3 separate regions of the Homo sapiens genome follow, and regions 1 and 2 are each linked to region 3. Evidence: fine-mapped expression QTL. A gene starts in region 3. Each other region holds a variant in brackets. All regions are shown on one strand. Distances are from middle to middle. Region 1 overlaps TTBK2 (tau tubulin kinase 2). Region 2 overlaps UBR1 (ubiquitin protein ligase E3 component n-recognin 1). Region 3 holds the start of CDAN1 (codanin 1).

The links. PIP is the estimated chance that this variant, and not a neighbour inherited with it, causes the effect.
Region 1: its variant is fine-mapped to the expression of CDAN1 in whole blood (TOPMed, PIP 0.99).
Region 2: its variant is fine-mapped to the expression of CDAN1 in whole blood (TOPMed, PIP above 0.99).

What each region holds. Positions count from the first base shown.
Region 1 is chr15:42,807,687-42,810,449 of GRCh38, forward strand. All of the region lies in intron 9 of TTBK2 (tau tubulin kinase 2), which reads right to left. Among named protein-coding and RNA genes, the nearest start is that of TTBK2-AS1, 70 kb to the left of the region's middle. The variant G/T (reference allele first, on the strand shown) is at 1,482.
Region 2 is chr15:43,005,625-43,008,387 of GRCh38, forward strand. It overlaps UBR1 (ubiquitin protein ligase E3 component n-recognin 1), which reads right to left. Exons shown (of 47, transcript NM_174916.3): 30 at 1,455-1,660. Among named protein-coding and RNA genes, the nearest start is that of TTBK2, 86 kb to the left of the region's middle. The variant C/T (reference allele first, on the strand shown) is at 1,103.
Region 3 is chr15:42,735,796-42,738,558 of GRCh38, forward strand. It overlaps CDAN1 (codanin 1), which reads right to left and starts at 1,333. Exons shown (of 28, transcript NM_138477.4): 1 at 1,218-1,333; 2 at 507-985; 3 at 80-283. The coding sequence starts at 1,307. RefSeq lists silencers at 560-849, 940-1,079, 1,270-1,519.

The DNA of each region.
Region 1 (2,763 bases), 72 kb after region 3:
TCAATCGCCCAAGGTGCTGAGATTACAAGCATGAACCACTGTGCTTGGCCCACTCTGTCTCTTATAGTTGTTATAATATTCAGAATCTGACAAAAACAATATTTATAGGAACATATCTGCTTTAATCTTGTTTATAATTCTGATATCTTCACATTTATTTTAACAGACAGAAAACATTATTTATGCACTTATAGGGTTAATTTTTCTTGTATTCTCTGTGTAGGAGACTGTTGATCCAAAGTAAAGACTTAATTAAATTTGCCTAACATTTGTTGAAAATTTAGGTGCCAGGTGTAATATGGGGTTAAAAAAATAAGACATGGCTGTTTCTCCAGGATTTAAAAGCTAGTTAGGAAAACAGACTCATACATAAATACTAAGTACAGATAAACTTGATGTAATTTCCCAAAATAATATAATACTTCTCAAAAGCAAATTTCGACCTTTACTGTAAAGTGAGAGACACATGAAAGATTCCTGGTAGAAAACAAAATAGCTACTCTCTCTAGGTCCACAACTGATGTCAAAGTGAACAGCAGCAGCTATTGGATGAGGTGTTGGCCATGTGCAACGTGTTGAAGTAATAATATTCTATGGCAAGATATTCCAATTTTTAAAGATTTATAAAATATACACAAAGTGAAAGTGGCTCTGTAAAACTGCATCATTTAACACTTTGATTATAACAAAAAAACTGACTTTGGTCTTAGCTCAGAATAGACAAAGCTGGAAACATATCATTGCTATTTGACCTTTGATGTAGCTAGGGAAGCAGTCATATTTAATATGGATATGCTTTTTGCTTGTTGCTGGAGGAGGTTTATTGTTTTTTTTAACTTTATTGGTTGTCCCATGAGAAACCTAAAATTTTGAAAGAAAAGACCAGGTATGGTGGCTTCATGCTGGCTATTTCAGCACTTTGTGAGGCCAAGGCAGAAGGATTGCTTGAGGCCAGTTTGAGACCTGCTTGGGCAACATAGGGAAACCTCATCTCTGCTTTAAAAAAAATAAAAAAAAAAAGCCAGGCATGGTGCACACTTGTAGATCAAGCTACTCAGGAGGCTAAAGTGGGAGGATCACTTGAGTCTTGGAGGTTGAAGCTGCAGTGAGCCATGTTTGCACCAACTGCACTCTAGCCTTGCTGACAGACCGAGACCCCGTCTCAAAAAATTTTTTTAAATGAAGAAAATAAAATCTTGAAAGAACAGTAAGTAAAATCAAATTCAGGAATGAATCTCAAACTGTAAAATTAATCACAGGGACAGCATGAATTCACGAGACCATTCAGATTAAAAGTAGAGTTATTTTTCTCAAGATGAAGACTGAGTAGAGAAACAAGAGGCAGAAGCTGCAAAGCTCAGGCTTTTGAAACCTGATGTCACATTGATACTAGTCATTAGAACACACCCATCACTTACATAACATCTTTTTTCAATTATCCTTCTCCTGTCCACCTGCCCTCTGTTCTCACTCACTGCTTA[G/T]GAAAGATCACAGCAGGAAAGAGCTGGATTATTTACAGAATCTGTGAAACAAAGTAATGTTATGCCTGTTCTCTTTCTTTCAAAAATGGAAAATTACCAAACTTTGTTTTGTTATTAAGTGATAGAAAAGCCCTTAGGAGAATGTCCAACTGAAAAACTTGAGAACAATAATTTGTTAGTTTAAAATAATCATTAAGTTTCAAACTTCAGCTGGTAAATATGATAGTCTTCTTTAGATATAGGTTTAAGAAGAGAATGTGATCAAAGTTTTTTACTGTCCTAAATTCCCCTAAGCAAATTTTGTCAATAAGAAACTATTAGCACTCAAGATGGGAAAGTTGGAACAATTTTCAGCTCCTCTTGAATCTAGTCTTACAGGTATAATTTCATTGCTTTAAGTAATGTGAACTGTATACATTTCAGAAAATACATACAAAAGACAAATATAAGAACACATTCCAAAACAACTCACACACAGTGTATTTTCTCAATTTGTTAGACAGTCCCTATTGCTTACAACACAAATTGGCATATGCATGAGAAGACAAACTCACCAATTTAAGGTCTCTAAGGACTCAAGGCTGTATGTTGCCTCTTTGCTTTATATCCTGTTTGTATCTTATACAAAAGCAGCAATTTCACAGAGCAATAATTACTATATGCAAATACATTTACTGTGCTATAGATACTTCTTAGTCTTTTGACTGCACAACACTGACAACACTGTAGAATTTAACTACCATTAACATGCAGTAAAGTCTATGTATTGTCCTTTGTAAATAAGGATGATATACTAATACATATTCTTATTAATCTATGTGTGGCCGCATTTATGTTTTCAGTGGTAGCAATTATTAGGTATTAAGCCCTGACCAAATTCTCCCTGAGAGCAACAGAATCTTCTGAAATACCGCTGGTTGGGGTTAGGGATGTAATTTGTAGTAAACCTAGTCAACCCTTCTAAGGCTCATTAACTGATGCTCTAAGGAAATGATTCTCTGACCACAGGCAAAATGGAGCCAATTTTCACTGACCGCTGTCCCATAGCATATTAACATATGATATGCTGCCCTAAAGCCCTTGACAGATGCATTACCTAGTTGGACATTTCCTTCTGGTCAACAAATTAGCTATAGAATTTACATAATTTCAACTGTCAGCAGTTCTATACGCCGAATGAATCATGCAGGAATAGGAAAATCTGTTGCAAGATGAATAAACCTAAAACTCGAATGAAGTTAAGTCCATCCAGAGGGATGAAACACATAACACACACGCTGAC
Region 2 (2,763 bases), 270 kb after region 3:
CGATGGCGGTTTTGTGGAATAGAAAAGGGGGAAATGTGGGGAAATGAGAGAGATCAGATTGTTACTGTGTCTGTGTAGAAAGAAGTAGACATGGGAGACTCCATTTTGTTCTGTACTAAGAAAAATTCTTCTGCCTTGGGATGCTGTTAATCTATAACCTTACCCCCAACCCCGTGCTCTCTGAAACATGTGCTGTGTCCACTCAGGGTTAAATGGATTAAGGGCGGGGCAAGATGTGCTTTGTTAAACAGATGCTTGAAGGCAGCATGCTCGTTAAGAGTCATCACCACTCCCTAATCTCAAGTACCCAGGGACACAAACACTGCGGAAGGCCGCAGGGTCCTCTGCCTAGGAAAACCAGAGACCCTTGTTCACATGTTTATCTGCTGACCTTCCCTCCACTATTGTCCTATGACCCTGCCAAATCCCCCTCTCGGAGAAACACCCAAGAATGATCAATAAATACTAAAAAAAAAAAAAAGAAAAAAAAAAAAAGAAAAGAAAAGCACAGATTGAGGATTTCAAATTCTGGTTTCATCACTTGTAACTCATGGCCATGGGTAAGTTACTTGACCTCTCTGTGCCTCAGGTCCTTCATCTATAAAATGGAACTAATAGTGATAACTAACTCATAGGGCTGTTGTGAGGATTAAGTAAGTAAATACACATAAAGCACTTAACAAGTGCCTGGCAATGTTAAGTTTTCAATAAATGCTAGTCTTTATTATCACTATTATTCCAAGGAGCTTGTTTTGTTTGTTTTGAGACAGGGTCTCACCCTGTTGTGGACCACAGGCTCATGCAACCATGCCTGGCTAATATGTTTGTAAAGACGAGGTTTCGCCATGTTGCCTAGGCTGGTCTCAAACTCCTGAGCTCAAGTGATCCACCCACACCGGCTTCCCAAAGTGCTGGGATTACAGGCGTGAGCCACCATGTCTGGCCTATTCCAAGGATATTTTAAAATAATAATGATGCTAAAGCAGCTAATTCCTGATGTAATAAGTGCAATAAATTATCTAATTAGCATTCCTGCCAAGAAAATGTTTAACATGATTCTAATCAGGAGGCAACTTAACAATCAGATAAATTCAGAATGTGA[C/T]ACATTATACAAAGCAAGTGGCCTGAATTCTTCAAAAAAGCTACTATCATAAAAAAAGGAGGGACTAATCTGGATTAAAATAGAGTAAAGGAAATATAGCCAAAGCAACACGTGTTTGTTTGGATCCTAAGTGAAAAAAAAAGTCTAGGAATTGAAGACATTTTGAGAACTGTTGGAGAAAAATTGATTTTATATTAGATAATATTCCTGGATTATTATTACTTTCTTAAATATGATAATGGTATGGTAGATATATAACCCTTATTTCCAAATGTTTTTCAAATAGTATTTTCTTTAATTACACAGGCATGAAAAGAAATGCACAAAAGGATATTTATTAAATAATACATACCTCCTGAGAGTTCTATGGGTTTTCCCCTGTGCTGGGTTAAGGCAGTAGATTTCTGGACACAGGCCGATAATACCATGGCATTATTTTCTATTTTCACCTCCTGTTCTTCTTGGCAAAGGATGCACGTCAGCACCTCCTTTTCAGTAACAGATGGACCCCGTTTAGGACCCAAAGCAATTCTAGAGTAGTCACTGACTGCTGGGGTGCTACCAAAAGAAATGATCAGAAATGAGGACACATGTTTTGGTCACTTGTCTTCATATTTTGGTAGATTTTAAGTAACTATAGGCAAGAAATATAAGAAAGATAATAAAAATAAAAATGATATTTAGCAATATTAAGTTAAAAGCTTCCCCCTTTCCTTTGTGGCTTTTATCAGTTATTTGCTTATTACAAAATACAAGTGTTGCTAAGTGCAAAAAACAGATGATAAAATGGAATGTATATTATAATTTTACTTAATTTACTATACCAATAAGCTGGGCTTTTTTTTTTTTCTGGATATAAAAGTAATACAGGCTTATTGAATAAATTTTGGAAAATCTATAATAGTATAAAAAAGTGTTATATTCCCACAACCTAGAGATACCTACTAGTAACCTTGTATATTTCCTTCTAGGTCTGCTTTCTATTTATAATATACTTCTTCATATAAATAAGATCACATTACACAGATCTGCATCCTGCTCTATTCACTTATAGTATCTTACATCATTAAAACTTCTTCAGAAACATTTTAAATGGTTGCACAGCTCTTACTGTATGTGCCATAATAGTTTTTATCCATTCCCTGTCATTAGGCATTTAGGTTTCTATTCTATTTTGGTCGCTATTCAAACTAAAAAACTTACACCTTAATGATTCAGCAATTCTTAGAATCTACTCTTACTGACTGGGCAAAACTCAAGATCTACTGAGGCGTACAATAATATTTAAATAATAGCAAATATTTGTAACATGCTGATTGTGAAGCTAGGCACTGTTTCAAATACTTTACATGTTTACTCAATCCTTACAATAATCCTATGAGGTAGGTGGTATTATTCTGTCTAGAGCAGCTCCTGCAAAGATGTCGCTGCAGCAGTGGAGGCGTGGCTGGGGCAACGTGCTCCATGTAGCCCTTGGGTTGGGAACAGGAGGGAACCCCACCCCTTCCAAGTTTGCAGGGCAGAAGCCCCGTGCTCCCGGGCACAGCTGCAACTGCCCAGCTCAGAAGTGCGTGTTCTGAGCCTCTCCGCACTCCCAATGCCCGCTCCGATTTTGGAGCAAAGCTGTGGCCAAGCCCAGGCGCTGCCGCGGCCCCGGCCAG
Region 3 (2,763 bases):
GGAAATCAATTTCAGGGAAAACCCCTGAAGATCCCCCACAGCGAGGAAACCGATATCCCCAGGAGCGGCCAGGCCATACCGCTCCTTCCTGAGCATCTCTCGCTCCTCTTGCAGACTTCTGCACCCTGGGGGAAGGCCAAGGCCCCAAGGGCTAGTGTCCAGGGCTGAGGGTTGGGAACTGGGGACACAGCTGATTGGGGGTGAGGTGAAGCAGGTCTTGGGCTTGGAGAGTGACCGCTCTTCGCTCACCGGAGTTGGGTTGATCCTGCGAGAAGGCTTCGTCCTGCTGAGAGTAGCCACAGGTTTTTCTCAAATTCCTATCTTCAAACATCTCCCCTCCACCACCGCAACAGCTAGACCTCTTGCCAAAAAACCCCACAAAAACCCTCACCATCACCCCCAGCCTTCTACCCATCCTGGCGCTCCACTGCGGAGCGCCGAGCTCGAATGACTGACTCCCCAGAGCCTTCGTGGTACCCATCTCCTGCATGAGAGCTGAGTCTCACCCTGTAGGGCCGGGGGGAACCGAGCCTACGGGAGGGAACTCCTCCAGGTTGCTGAGGTTTGGCGGATCAGACAGCGTGAGGCTGGGGCGGCTGGGGCTGCCAGAGCCCCTAAGCCTCCGGCCCCCGGCTCCGGGCAGGCTCTCCCCGCTGACCCCCTCCTCCAGGCCGCGGCCTCCACGCTCGCGGGCCGGCCCCGGGCCCCGCCTCCTGCCCCCGCGGCGGGCCAGAGGGGCCTCGGCAGCGGTGCTCTGGGCCTCGGTCGGAGGGAAAAGCTGGCTGCGCGCCCCGCGGCTACCCCGCGGCGGGCCTCCCGGCCTCCCTGGCAAGGCTGCCGAGGCGCCCGGGGTCTTGGCGGGGGTCGGGGGCCCCTGCGGGAGGACGCGGCTGCTCTGCTCCCTCAGGAAGTTCAACAGGAACGGTACGAATTCTTTCCGCAGGGCCCGGAGTGAGCTCAGCGCGGCCGCCTCCCCAGCGTTATCCTAGGGCAGAAGCACAGGTGGAGGGGCGAGAGGGTCAGCCGCCGGCCCGCGGGCCGTGAGCAGCCGGGGCCGTAGGGCGCGCCTCGGGTGGGCGGCCCGGGCAGCGGCGCCCAGTTGGAGTGCACTCGGCCCGGCTGGCAGCCAGGCGCCCTAGAGGAAGGGGACTGGAGGGCTGGACTCCACTGCGGGAACCGGCTTCGAGTCAGACCTGGGGGCGTGTCACCGCTGTTACCTCCGAACCCTGGGTGCTGCGCGCGATCCACCGCACGACGGCTGCGACCGACACCTCTTCTCGCAGCAGCGACTCCAAAACGGCCGCCATCCCGGTCGGGGCGCTCTGGGGCGACTGCGCAGGCGCCGGCGCGCCGCGGGCGGCCAGGGAGGGGCGGGGCCGGCGGCGGGGAACGACCGTTGGGTCGCGGGATGGGGAGGGACCCGGCTGGCGGGGCGGGGCGGAGCCGGCTGTTGCCCAGACCCACGGAGTCAAGGCCTCGCTGAGTCCTCAACCCCGGCCGAGAGGCCGGTTGTTAGGAGGTGAAATGTGGATCACAGCGCCTGGGGAGGCCCACCTTGGCTGCCCGCCCTGGAGCGACCTGAAGGGAGGGATTCGAGCTGGGAGTGGGGCTGCCGCGGGTCGGACGCCCCTCTAGGGAGACCCAGGACCCGGGAGAGAGGTAGAGGGGAGCAGAGACAGCCACCAGCTTCTATCTTCTGCTCTAAGCACATTCTTTCACGAGTTTAAGTTTCCTAGATCCAACTGGCACCACCCCAGAGAAATTATAATCTAATCTTTCATTTTGACTTTGTTCTTCTCAAAGGCCGATTTTTCAATCCCTTGGCCGAGCAGTACCCATCGGCTTTTCAGCGCTCACCATCAACTGACCATTTAGGAAAGAATTATTTCTAGGAGGTTCTTAATAATCCCCAAGCCACAACCCTTAAAGTGCCTCGGGCCACCCTGCACACAGAATTGCTTGTATGTAGCTTTATTTACTTAAGTGGGTTTACATGAGGTTAATATTTCAACTACTTTGCAGTTTAGATGTCAGTAAGCATATCATGATTAGCTTCTGGGAGCTTGAGGTTTGTATTTTTGGGTTTGGTGTTTTTTGTTTTTGTTTTGTTTTTTTTGAGACAGGGTCTTGCTCTGTTGCCCAGGCTGGAGTGCAGTGGCGTGAGCACGGCTCACTGCAGCCTTGGCCTCCTGGGCTCAAGCAATCCTCCCGACTCAGCCTCCCTAGGGCTATAGCCCAGCTAATGTTTTGGCCGGGAGAGGGCAGCAGATCCAAAGTGCTGGGATTATAGGCGTGGGCCACCACGCCCGGCCTGAGTAATTTCTTAATCTCCTTTATTTAATTTTATTTTGAGATGGAGTCTCGCTCTGTCACCCCCGGGGCTGGAATGCAGTGGGAGGCAGAGGTGGGCGGATCACGAGGTCGAGAGATGGAGACCATCCTGGCCAACATGGTGAAACCGTGTCTCTAATAAAAATACAAAAATTAACTGGGCGTGGTGGCACGCGCCTGTAGTCCTAGCTACTGGGGAGGCTGAGGCAGGAGAATCGCTTGAACCTGGGAGGCGGAGGTTGCAGTGATCCAAGATCACGCCACTGCACTCCAGCCTGGGTGACAGAGCGAGACTCCATCTCAAAAACAAAACAAAACAAAAAAACCTGAGAGAGGATTTTGAAGGTTGCTGCTCAGTGACAAATCAAGCAAGGGAATCCAAGCGGAGAAAAACAGATGGCACGAACATTCCATGTCAAACCAAACCAGGAG